Homo sapiens: one gene and its partners. The protein of the gene in region 1 purifies or fractionates together with the protein of each later gene. This does not show direct contact. Each region holds a gene or a part of one and is shown in the gene's direction. Other genes may lie near its edges.

Region 1 (5,130 bases):
GACATCTGTGTCTGTAGGTTAGAAGACTTAATATTGCTAAAATGACAATATTCCCCAAATTGATCTACAGATTTAGCATAATCCCTATCAGAATTCAGCTGACTTCTTTTGCAGAAATTGACAAGCTGGTTCTAAAATTCATATGGAAAGTCAAGGGATTCAGAATAGCCAAAGCAATCTTGAAAAAGAAAAACAAAGTGGGAGGGCTCACACTTCCTGATTTCAAAACTTACTACGAAGCTACAGTAATCAAACTGGTTTGGTACAGGCACAAACACAGACATATAGGTCAGTGAAATAGAATAGAGAGTCTGAAAGAAACCCATATATCTATGGTCAATTTAGTTTTGACAAGGGTGCCAAGTCCATTCAATGGGAAAACAATTGTCTTTTTGACAAATTATGCCAGAACAACTCGACATCCACATGTAAAAGAATGAATTTGAACCTAGCCTCACTCCATACACAAAACTTAAAATGGATCAAAGATCTAAATGTAAGAGCTAAAGCTATAAAACTCTTAGAATTTTAAATCGGCCAGGTATGGTGGTTCACACCTGTAATCCCAGCACTTTGGGAAGCTGAGGTGGGAGAATCACTTGAGCCCAGGAGTTTGAGACCAGCCCAATCAACATAGTGAGACCCCATATCTTAATAAATACATACTTTAAAAAATAAAAGAACAAAAAAATGAAAAAAATAAATAGCCAGGCATGGTGGTGTGTGCCTGTAGTCCCAGCTACTCAGGAGGCTGAGGTGGGAGGATCACCTGAGTCCAGGAAGGTCAAGCCTGCAGTGAGCCAAAGTTGCACCACTGCACTCCAGCCTGGACAACAGAGTGACACCCTATCTCCAAAAAAGAAAAAGAGAGAAAGAAAATCATTTTCTCTTAGTGTTCAAATTTGTCACCATCAATATTTCCTTGTATTTATTTAAATTTCCCTGTGGCTATTTCACCTTTTTCATTCCACTTCATTCTCTTGATTACCCAGGTTGGTAAACTGTGTATCTTTAAAACTGGTCTTGTCAGAATACTGCCTTTTAAATTTATTTTCCACTACCCATCTTTGTTTTCTATGCATTAATTTAAGTTTTGATCTTTATTTGACTGCTTTCCAGATTCATCTGGTGTATCTTTTTCTAGTTTCCTAAGGCTTTGTGAGGCACCGAGTCAAGGGAAGAGAGGAAGTGCTAAATCTCACCAGACGCTAGAGAGTGATATGGGGATGCACCGTCATGGTCCTCCCTGCTTTGCCATGCTGATGATAATGAGAAGGGACTGTGGATGGACTTCACATGAGGAGAGCCCTGCTATGGAATGGCACTCAAGTGCTCTATTTTTCCACCCTCAGCTCTGACACATCTCTGACAGGAGGCAAGCAGACACATGGTACTGAGGAGAGAGGCCATTTCTCTTACTGTCTCCTGTCTCTGAAGAGAATGAGGAAGTAAAAGCTGAAGAACAACAGGAATGAAGTCAGTGGCAAGACCAACTGGTGCCACTGACCAGACCTGAGATTGAAAGATTAACCCTCCCCACCCCCAACTCTAACCACATGTGCTCTCAATCTATCACAACACTTTCACATGGACCCCTTAGAGTTGAAAGCCCTAAAAAGGGCCAGGTTTCACATGGACCCCTTAGAGTTGAAAGCCCTTTAAAGGGCCAGGAACTCTTTCTTTAGGGAGCTCGGTTCTTGAGATGCAAGTCGGCCAATGCTCCCGGGGGAATAAAGCCTCTTCCTTCTTTAACCCAGTGTCTGAGGGGTTTTGTCTGCAGCTCATCCTGCTACAGTACAAGTTCCCCTGGAGTTTGTTTCTGACAGAGACACATCTCTGTGGCAGATGTCCCAATCCCTATGTCATAATGCAATTGTGAATTCAGAGCTCTCTCCTCACTCACGTTACTCATGCCAGACCTTGGGAAGCAGAGAAATCAGGGCTAATGAACCATCTAAGGACAGGCCATGAGGGTTCGATTTTGTGTAAGAGACATGGCCAGATCTATTAGGTGGACCAGGAATGGGTGGGTATCTCCCTGGGCTTTACAGGACTTGAGAAAAGAGAGGATGTTAAAGTAGTAATTGTCTTTGTATAGAGCCATAGAGAGAAACAGTCTTAACTCATTTATGTACTTCCCATTTAATTCTGATGACAGACCAAAGGCAATTTAATTTTGGTTATAATTGAGGATGTTGAAGAAAGCATTGAATGGAAGACATTGCAGAAGAAGAAACAGCAGAAAATCAAGGTGAGAAGAATTCCATGTACTTAAGAGAAATCCAGAACATTTATAACTACATCATAAGGTGTAGGACTTTGCCTCTTATCAATCCAGGGTCTAATTAGGAGTCAACTCAATGTTGGCTCATTTTTCCTCCATTCTCTTCTCAGTCTGGGCTGTCTGGATCTGGGCCTGACTGAGATATTGAGAGTGATTGGAAAGAATGAAAGCCTTGGGAGGCCGAGACAGGCAGATCATGAGGTCAGGAGATTGAGACCATCCTGGCTAACACGGTGAAACCCCATCTCTACTAAAAATACAAAAAATTAGCCGGGTGTGGTGGTGAGTGCCTGTAGTCCCAGCTATGCTACTCAGGAGGCTGAGGCAGGAGAATGGGTGAACCCGAGAAGCGGAGCTTGCAGTGAGCCAAGATCACGCCACTGCACTCCAGCCTGGGCAACAGAGCGAGACTCCTTCTCAAAAAAAAAAAAAAAAAAAAGAATGAAAGCCATCAAGAAATGCATAAGGCTGAGAGGTGAGAATGTGAGAACTTGGAATTAGAGAGTAGACTGTTCAAAATATGGAAAGACTTGGAGTAGAATATGTGGTCAGGGTATTGAAAACCTACCATAGTATCAAAATATGGTCATAGCAGACAGAAATCAGCCAGTGGTGGTTTGGGGCTGGAATTAGCAGATAATTACCAGGCAGAAGGTTATGAGGCCTTTCCAAACCCAGTGAGCACCAAAGAGGTGAGTGTGACTAACAAGGTCCCACACATCCCTATTGCACCCTTCTAGTTACTAATGGTTTTTCCCTTGATCCATGCACTGCAGAAATAGTCTGCAGAAGAACTCTGTGACTCTAAGATTGAAGTGATGTGCCCACAGTGGCAGAGGAAGGTCACCACCAGGTCTGATGGCTCCTAGTCAGTGTCCTGCTAACTTCCCTGAATTCTGAGGAAGGGCTGTGTTTTGAGAGAGAAAATCCAGGCTCCTTCCAGGAAGATCCTAGAAGTTGGTGGCAGGAAGTTTTCTGACTGATCGCTCTTGTCTCTGCCTAGGAAAAACTTAGAATAAGAACAAAAGCAGCTGTAAAGATCCAGGCCTGGTGGCGGGGCACCCTGGTGCGCAGGACACTGCTGCATGCAGCCCTCAGGGCCTGGATAATTCAGTGCTGGTGGCGGATGACGCTGTCGAGGGTGCTGGAGAAGAAACGGCAGGCAGCTCTGATCGCCTACGCAACCAGAGAGAGGGCAGTGATCAAGCTCCAGTCTTTGGTCCGTATGTGGCGTGTCCGCTGGCGATACTGCCAGGTGCTCAATGCCATCTACATCATCCAGGGCCACTGGCAATGCCACAACTGCCAGACCTGCGCTCTCCTCCAGGGCCACTGTGTGGTCACAGCCACTCACCTGCAGTTCCACATTGAGATCATCAACTCCTAAGGGCTGGCAAGAAGGGCACTGTGTCTACTGTCCCTATTAAAGGTCTAACCTGGTCTGGTGTGTCTCATGGGCTCCCCCAGCTAATGGGATTCTTGAGACTTGGACCTTGCTGCCTCCTCTTCTCCCTGAGAAAGAATTTCAGTGAGGTTTGCCCCCTGTGTCCAAGGACCCTGTTTTGGACTGACAATGGCCATAGGAAGCCCCAGTCTGCTCTGATATATGACAGAGCCAGAAATCCCAGTTCCCATCCCCAGCCTTATTTTCTTCTCACCGGGGGATCTGGGAGGCAGTTGGGCTCCATCTTCCTGAAGATTCTGGGCACCTCTGCACATATGGATGGACTATTGGGCCCTGCTCTGTCAACCTAGAATCAAGGTCGGCTGGGGTTTGGGATGCCTCAGTTTCCTCTTTGGCAAGCACCTAGATGGAAAGGCAATATTTGGCTGATTCTCCTGGGAGCAATGTAGTGCAGCCCCAGGTGAAGGATAAGAGGCTGGCCTTACTGGTAGGTGGGGCTGGGGCTAGGCATGCTAATGATTAGGTGGTGACCCTAAGGACTAGTGGAAAACAGAAGTTTACAGAAGTTCATCTTTTCTCTACAATTTCCTCACTAGAACTCGTCTCCCCAAGGGCCAGGTGACAAACAGGGCTCCCTCTGATATTACCCCCACCCCTACTCTTATCTCAATTATTGGTGATTTTATCATTGGTCAAGATGACCCTACAATCTCCTCCATTCTAACCTCAAACCTTTTCTGCTCTTCTCCTCAGCTATTCACTCCCACAGTCATACCAAAACAATGCTATTCTATGGAACTTCTGTGATGATGGAAATCTCTCTCTATGCTGTCCAACATAGTAGCCACTAGCCACATATAGTTGTGGTGCACCTGAAATGTGCCTAGTGCAACTGAGGAGTTGAATTTTTTATTTTATTTAAATTTAAATAATCATTGGACAATGATGCTCTAGACCTCATCATCACCAATAATTGTACTATTGCTCAAATTGCTTTTTCTAATTTTCCATTCTTTGATTACTTTCTTCTTTCAGTTCACCTTTTCAATAACCCCAATATTTCTTCAGATATGATAAGGTCTTCCAGTTTATTGATGCTATCATTTTTTTACAGCCACCACCCCTGACATGCTCTTGCATGTTTCTTTACCTAGTGCAGATTCCATGGTTAATTATCATCTCTCCCCTGCACTACCTCACTTCCTTGGCCCACTTTCTTTCTGCAAACATGTATGAGATGAAGGCAACCGTCTCCCTGTTCCATGCCTACAGAATAAGGGAACATGGCTGGGACAAAACCAACAACCATGAGGCATGGTCTTCATTTATATTCATGACCACATATATCAACTGGACTAATTTCCCAATGAATTTATTTAGTATGTTTGCATTTATATTTTCCGAGTTGAATAATTTACACCACCTCCTCTCCAAATGTTTG
Region 2 (4,408 bases), on another chromosome or scaffold:
AATATTGCTTTGAGACGGAGTTTTGATTTTGTTGCCCAGGCTGGAGTGCAGTGGCTCAATCTCGGCTCACTGCAACCTTCACCTCCTGGGTTCAAGCGATTCTCCTGTCTCAGCCTCCCAAGTAGCTGGGATCATAGGCGCCTGCCACCACGGCCAGCTAATTTTTGTATTTTTAGTAGAAACGGTGTTTCACCATGTTGGCCAGGCTGGTCTTGAACTCCTGACCTCAGGTGATCCACCAGCCTCTGCCTCCCAAAGTGTTGGCATTACAGGCGTGAGCCACCGCGCCCAGCCTGTTAGATGCTTTTCTTGCTTAGTACTATCTCATTAACATTTTGCAATTATATTATATTATATTATATTATATTATATTATATTATATTATATTATTTTTGAGACGGGGTCTTTCTCTGTCCCCCAGGCTGGAGTGCGGTAGCATGATCAGGGCTCACTCCAGCCCTGCCTCCTGGGCTCGAGGGATCCTTCCACCTCAGCCTCCCAAGGAGGTGGAACTACAGGTGCGTGCCACCACGCCTGGCTAATTTTTGTATTTTTTTTGTAGAGATATGGTTTCATTATATTGCCCAGGCTGGTCTCTAATTCCTGAGCTCAAGAGATCCACCCGCCTTGGCCTCCATATTTTGCAATTATAATCTGCAATGGAATCATAATTTTAAATTGCTGTATTGTTTGTAATATGTGCTTGGTTATACTTATATAATTATAAGTTGGTTTGTAATATGTGCTTGGTTATACTTATATAATTATTCTCTCCTTTATTATACATGAGGTAAGAGAAGCTCAGGGAATCCATTCAGGCAGCAAGTGGAGAAACTAGCTCTCAAACCTGCATCTCAGGCTCTCATTCTTCCACTGCAAAAAAGCAAAGTGCTCAAAAAATATGGTCACAGATCTGCAGAAGTCTTGCACAAGGGCATTATCATAGCAATAAGAATGACTAATAAGTATTAACGGCCCATGAGAAAAGAACAAATACCATTAATTATCTCAATATATTAAGCATATTAGTAATGTTTGTACAGAATTATTCATGCAAATATTATTAGCCTGTGTCGGGGACAGTTGCTAAACTCAGCAACAGGCTCACAGCTCAGCTTCGTGCCTCTGGTTCCAGATGTGCAGGGGCCAGGGCTTCCAGGGACACGCCCCCGTGGGCCTCCAGGGAGCCAATCGACGCGCAGAAGGCGGGGCCCTGGGAGCGACAACGGTGTTATCCAATGGGCCGACAGCTGGAGCCGCCCCTGGCCAATGGGCGCGCTCCTCCGCGATGGGCGGAAGTGGTGAGGCAGCTCTGAGGGCCGTTGTTCAGTGCGGGGTCTGACAGAGGAGGCTCCGTGTCTGCAGCTAGTGTGTCAACTCAGCGTTTCTCCTCTCGTCCCTGGTGAGGTGTAGCGGCGGCACGCGGCTGGAGATCCCCTGTGGCCTCCAGTTTAGGAAGGGTCCAGCATCCCAAGGGAGGGGTGTGTGGGCGAGGGGTCTCTGGGCCCGGGGTCGCGGCTGTGAGGAGAGGATGCCCGCGCGGCGGCATCTCAGGCACCTGGAGGAGGCCGCGCTTTCTCCTCAGGGAACCGGCGCCTTGGCAGCCCCCGGCGACGCCGCCCCCTTCGCGGCCTAGGTTGGTCTGGTGAGCCGGGAAGCGGGCGTCGTTCGCAGCGCCGCTGTGACCACCGCGTCCCGGGCGGAGCTGGGCTCAGTGCCGGCCTGGGCCTAGAGTCCGAGCCTCGAGCTGCCGGCGTGGGGGGTCGCGAGTGGCCTAATGCGGCCTCGAAGCCGAAGGACCCGAGTCCGAGCTCGCACTCCGACCCGCTGGTGCTGTGGAAAACTCAGGTGGCCTTCCGCTTTCGTAGCCTCTAAAGTGGGGACCAAGACTTTCACCTCTTAGGATTGTAGTCGGGATTAAAAGATTTTCCCGGTAAGCGTTTGGCAACTGCTATTATTTGAGAAGCCGCTTACTTCTTCACTCCCCATCACCGACCTTCCTGGGGACGGGGGCGATTGGAAACTGCCTTGGGGTATCTGGACCCGGCAGGGGAAGCTCCGCCGCCTCGGGCAGAGGGACGGTCCCCTCTGCGGACTAGAGAGATCTAGCTGACCCCCAACAGGCTCCTTATAAGCTTGAAGACTTTTCTGTGCCTCAACTCTTCCGTGCATTCGCCCGTTTCCTTGACCCTTTGAAGTATTGTCAGTCCTCTGCCTGAAGAATCTGAGGCCCAGAGAGGTTAAATCTGGCAGAACCAGCCAGACCTTGACCCCCAGAGGGGGACCCTGCAGGCTACCCCCAGTCTCCTTGCATCTAGAAAAGCAAGCACCTGCTACATCTGAGCTCTGGCCTTAGAGTTGGCCAGAGTGGGCTGGAATAGAGCACACCTGAAATCAGTCGGACAGCCTTCCTTAGTTGCCATTTCATATCAGAGTGAATATCTTTTTTTTTTTTTGAGATGGAGTCACCTTCTGTTGTTCAGGTTGGAGTGCAGTGGCGAGATCTCAGCTCACTGCAGCCTCCGCCTCCTGGGTTTAAGTGATTCTCTTGCCTCAGCCTCCTGAGTAGCTGGGATACAAGCGCCCGTCACCACGCCCAACTAATTTTTGTATTTTTAGTAGAGACTTGGTTTTGCCATGTTGGCCAGGCTGGTCTCGAACCCCAGACCTCCAGTGATCTGCCCACCTCGCCCTCCCAAAGTGCTGGGATTACAGGCGTGAGCTGCTGCGCCCAGCCCAGAATGGGTGTCTTGAATTATGTCATTCCCTAGTTTAAAGCCCTTCAGTGGTTTACCATTGAGCTTGGAATCGAATCCAATATTCTTTCTGTCTGATATGACAAGACCTTCTTGAGTCATTCCCCTTTTTTATTATGCTCTTCCAGATCTGCCTTTACTTTCTCTTTCATTGCTTTTAGGCCTTTTGCCCTTCCCACTGCCTGGATGGATTTCCCCGCATTCCCATCCTCTATCTTTGTCTTTTCGTGGTTGGCTCTTGTACTTCAGTTCTTAATTTAAATGTCGTCTCCCCAGAAAGTTCTTCCCTGACCACTCTTATCTACCTAAAGTAGATTTGCCTCTATTCCGCCCCCATTTATTTGTCAGTATACTTTTCCATCACAATACTCAAGTTATATGTATTTTTTTGCTTATTGTTTTTCTCTACCACTAAATCGCTTTATCAGAGACTATATTTCCTTATTTTGTAAAGTATTTTTAGTGCCAGGGCACAGTGGCACACAGTATGGTCTTCTTTTTCTTTGAGACAGGGTCTCACTCTGTCACCCCGGCTGGAGTGCAGTGGTGTGATCACAACTCACTCACTGTAGCCTCGACCTCCTGGGCTCAAGCCTCCCAAGTAGCTGGGACTACCTCAGCCTCCCACCCCAGCCTCCCAAGTAGCTGAGATTACAGGCATGTGCCACCATACCCACCTAATTTTTTGCTTTTTTGTTTTTTGTTTTTTTTGAGAGGGAGTCTCGCTCTGTCGCCCAGGCTGGAGTGCAGTGGCGTGATCTCGGCTCACTGCAAGCTCTTTTTAGTAGAGACTGGGTTTCACCATGTTAGGCAGGATGGTCTCGATCTCCTGACCTTGTGATCCACCTGTCTCGGCCTCCCAAAGTGCTGGGATTACAGGCATGAACCACCGCACCCGGCTGCTTATTTTTTATAAAGGCAGGGTCTTACTATGTTTCCTGGCTGGCCTTGAACTCCTGAGCTCAAGTGATCCACCCACCCCAGCCTTCCAGAGTGCTGGGATTACAGGTGTGAGACACTGCACCTGGCCCACAGTATTGTCCTTTTTTTTTTTATTTTTATTTTTTGAGACAGAGGCTCACTCTGTTGCCCAGGCTGGGGTGCAGTGGTGTGATCCTGGCTTACTGCAACCTCCACCTCCCGGGTTCAAGCAATTCTGCTTCAGCCTCCCTAGTAGCTGGGACTACAGGCACCCGGCTAATTTTTTTATTTTTAGTAGAGAGGTGTTTCGCCATGCTGGCCAGGCTGGTCTTGAACTCCTGACCTCAAGTGATCCGCCCACCTCAGCCTCCCAAAGTGCTGGGATTACAGGCATGAGCCACTGGACCCAGCCTCAAAGTATTGTCTTAATTAAGCATGTTGAACAAATGACTAAATACATGTTTTGAAAAGTGGCAACTCGCTTGATAATGCCAAAACCTTTAAAGAACCCTACTGGGGGCAGGATTTAAGACCATTTTTGTATCATGGAAAGGAATAATCTAAACTAAACAATGGTAGTAAAGTTGCCAGTGCTTTGCTTTCTGCATTGACATCTTGTTTAAAAAGCAGGAGAAACTTTATAGTGAAGAAATTTGGCAGACACCATATCAACTATGTGATCATGGTTTACATCAATAGTAAAATAAGACTGTTGACATCATGTACCTTCT
Region 3 (3,765 bases), on another chromosome or scaffold:
TTGAGCCACTGTGCCTGGCCCATTTCCCCTTTTCTACATGGAGAAGGACAGAATTGGGCACTGTTCAGTTTCCATCATGGCCTCTCTTGATGTATCTTGTTAAGCTTCTGCCTTCCCTCCTGCCTGCCTCGGTCTGTGGTTTTTCAGCTCCAGAGAGAGGGTTGATTGGCCTGGCCGACCTTTCCGAGGGATGGGTTCAGCCAGCTTTGGGTCAGCTGTGGTGGGTGTGGTGTTAGCTATGGTTCCTCTAGCCTCACGGTGGCACTGTGGGCTGAGACTTCCTTCTAAGAGGCAGTGAAGGCAGGTAGCCTCAATAAAACCTGTCTGTTCTGAGATAGAAGTAGAAACACAGAAGTGCTCCAGTTGCAGTAAAAATATCCAGGTTATTTGGGGACCAAACACCCTTTCCTCAGACTAAAAGAGGGATTGTCAACCCAGATGGCTAGAGAGTAGGGGGATCTGAATGAGCGAGGGCTGTTGGTGCCAACTTAGAGAGTCTGTGTCTTGCCCGTCAGGCTGCTACTGCCCAGCCTGGGTTGACGTCATCAGGGCAAACTCAGGCTTGGTGCTTATAGGTCTTCTGTTTTAGTAAGTAGTCGATCCAGATTTTTAAGTGACACCACACGCATTTTAAATGTTGGCAGCAAATACAGATTGGCAAAAAGCACTGAGGTGTATAAAGCAGTTTTGCTGCCTGGTGATCCGTGGACTGTTTGTTTGCACTGTTTGCATTCTCTGGTCTAAAGTATCTTTTGGCTTCTTCTTTTTTTTTTTTGGATGGTTTATTTCAGATCTCTTAAGGGCAGTCCCAAGATCCAGAGCAGAGATGTATGATGACGTCCACAGCGATGGCAGATACTCCCTCAGTGGATCTGTAGCTCACTCTAGAGATGCCGGAAGAGAAGGCCTGAGAAGTGACGTATTTCCAGGGCCTTCCTTCAGATCAAGCAACCCTTCCATCAGTGATGACAGCTACTTTCGCAAAGAATGTGGCCGGGATCTGGAATTTTCTCACTCTGATTCTCGGGACCAGGTCATTGGCCACCGGAAATTGGGGCATTTCCGTTCTCAGGACTGGAAATTTGCGCTCCGTGGTTCTTGGGAACAAGACTTTGGCCATCCAGTTTCTCAAGAGTCCTCTTGGTCACAGGAGTATAGTTTTGGTCCCTCTGCAGTTTTGGGGGACTTTGGATCTTCCAGGCTGATTGAGAAAGAGTGTTTGGAGAAGGAGAGTCGGGATTATGACGTGGACCATCCTGGGGAGGCTGACTCTGTGCTTAGGGGCGGCAGTCAAGTCCAGGCCAGAGGTCGAGCTCTAAACATCGTTGACCAGGAAGGTTCCCTCCTAGGAAAGGGGGAGACTCAGGGCCTGCTCACAGCTAAGGGGGGTGTTGGGAAACTTGTCACATTGAGAAATGTGAGCACAAAAAAAATACCCACCGTGAATCGTATTACTCCCAAAACTCAGGGCACTAACCAAATCCAGAAAAACACTCCAAGTCCTGATGTGACCCTGGGGACAAACCCAGGGACAGAAGATATCCAGTTCCCCATTCAGAAGATCCCTCTGGGGCTGGATCTGAAGAATCTTCGGCTCCCCAGAAGAAAGATGAGCTTTGACATCATAGATAAGTCTGATGTTTTTTCAAGATTTGGGATAGAAATAATCAAATGGGCAGGATTCCACACCATAAAAGATGATATTAAATTTTCCCAACTTTTCCAGACTCTCTTTGAACTTGAAACAGAAACCTGTGCTAAAATGCTTGCCTCATTCAAATGTTCCTTAAAACCAGAGCACAGAGATTTTTGCTTTTTTACTATCAAATTTTTAAAGCACTCTGCTTTGAAAACACCCAGAGTTGATAATGAGTTTTTAAACATGCTTTTAGACAAAGGTGCTGTGAAGACCAAAAATTGCTTTTTTGAAATCATAAAGCCTTTTGACAAGTACATAATGAGACTTCAAGACCGGCTTCTGAAGAGTGTCACACCTTTGCTTATGGCCTGCAATGCCTACGAGCTAAGTGTCAAGATGAAGACCCTCAGTAACCCCCTGGACTTGGCTCTTGCCCTAGAAACCACCAACTCTCTCTGCCGGAAGTCTTTGGCCCTTTTGGGACAGACATTTTCCTTGGCCTCTTCTTTCCGGCAGGAGAAAATCTTAGAAGCTGTCGGCCTGCAAGATATAGCTCCCTCACCTGCTGCGTTTCCAAACTTCGAAGACTCCACTTTGTTTGGGCGAGAGTACATAGACCACCTGAAGGCCTGGCTAGTCAGCAGCGGATGTCCCCTCCAGGTTAAGAAAGCCGAACCAGAGCCGATGCGAGAGGAGGAGAAAATGATTCCTCCTACGAAACCTGAAATTCAGGCCAAGGCTCCAAGTAGTCTGAGTGATGGTAAGGAAATCAGCCAAAGTTTCTATTTGTTGTTTTTCGTGTTTCTTTGGTAATGTCTTTTATTCGAGATTTTTTTACACAGAAGTTCTTTAGCCAATTGGAAACATATCAGGATTTTAGTAGAAAACGCACATTGGCCAATATATGTCTGCCATTCATTCTGTGAATGTGTATTAGGAATCTGCTGTTTACCATAGAAGTCTTTAGACAGCCGGGTGTGGTGGCACATGCCTGTAATCCCAGCACTTTGGGAGGCTGAGGCGGCAGATCACTTAAGACCAAGAGTTTGAGACCAGCCTGGCCAACATGGTGAAACCCCATCTCTACTAAAAATACAAAAACTAGCCGGGTGTGGTGGCACGCACCTGAAATCCCAGCTACTCGGGAGGCTGAGTTAGGAGAATCCACTTGGACCTGGGAGGCGGAGGTTTCAGTGAGCTGAGATCACCCCACTGCACTCCAACCTGGGTGACAGAGCAAGACTCTGTCTCAGAAAAATAAAAATTTTTAGACATTTTTAGGTCAAATACCTCTCTGGGAATTTGGTAGAAAGCTGTGGCCATTGCCAGAAAAAATGCTCATCTATTCACGCACAATTTTACCTATATCATCCGGGGGATTCGTACCTTTCTGCAGCCAAGGTTAAGAACGCTTGTTCCTTTTTTTTTCTTTTTAACCTTTGAAAAAAAGAAGGGTTGACTTTCTTTCCTTGTTTTTGTTTTTTTGAGACAGGGTCGTGCTCTGTCACCCAGGCTGGAGTGCAGTGGCATGACCATGGCTCACTGCAGCCCCGACCTCCTAGGCTCAAGTGATCCTTCCGCCTCAGCCTCCTGAGTAGCTGGGACTATAGGCATGTACCACCATGCCTGGCTAACTTTTTTTGTATTTTTTTGTAGAGAATCATGTTGCCCAGACTGGTCTCGAACTCCTGAGCTCAAGTGATCTACCTGCCTCAGCCTCCCAAAGTGCTGGGATTATAGGTGTGAGTCACTGCACCTGGCCTGGAACCCTTGTTCCAACATGTCCCCACAAGGTATTACTAGAAGGGAGAAAAGACACAGAGCACTGTCTCTGAGGAATCCCCAGGCTCCTGAGGGAAGAAAATCACAAAGACCAGTCACTTGTGAGCCAGGGGTGGTAGCATATGTCTGAAATCCCAGCTACTTGGGAGGCTGAGGAGGGAGGATTGCTTGAGGCCAGGAGTTCAAGGCTGCAGTGACCTATGATTGCATCTGTGAATAGCCACCGCACTCCAGCCTGGGCTAGAATCACCCTGTCTCTCAATAAACCAAAACAAAAAAACAGTCACCCCTGTGCTAGAATTAAAGCGACACAGGAGAGGCTCCAGTCTAGCCTGGAAAGTTGG

The links. The genes of interacting proteins can lie anywhere in the genome.
Region 2: the proteins of IQCF2 (region 1) and TRAFD1 purify together in Homo sapiens (affinity purification with mass spectrometry; one large-scale study listed by BioGRID and IntAct). This does not show direct contact.
Region 3: the proteins of IQCF2 (region 1) and SUGP2 purify together in Homo sapiens (affinity purification with mass spectrometry; one large-scale study listed by BioGRID and IntAct). This does not show direct contact.

The regions. Positions count from the first base shown.
Region 1 is NC_000003.12:51,859,700-51,864,829, forward strand, and holds IQCF2 (IQ domain-containing protein F2), read left to right. Parts: upstream 1-1,915; 5' UTR 1,916-1,967; coding exon 1,968-1,985; intron 1,986-2,158; coding exon 2,159-2,251; intron 2,252-3,287; coding exon 3,288-3,671; 3' UTR 3,672-3,725; downstream 3,726-5,130.
Region 2 is NC_000012.12:112,124,217-112,128,624, forward strand, and holds the start of TRAFD1 (TRAF-type zinc finger domain-containing protein 1), read left to right. Parts: upstream 1-1,343; 5' UTR 1,344-1,402; exon of another isoform or gene 1,403-1,933; intron 1,934-4,408. UniProt on the Homo sapiens protein: Negative feedback regulator that controls excessive innate immune responses. Regulates both Toll-like receptor 4 (TLR4) and DDX58/RIG1-like helicases (RLH) pathways.
Region 3 is NC_000019.10:19,023,253-19,027,017, reverse strand, and holds part of SUGP2 (SURP and G-patch domain-containing protein 2), read left to right. Parts: intron 1-791; coding exon 792-2,399; intron 2,400-3,765. UniProt on the Homo sapiens protein: May play a role in mRNA splicing.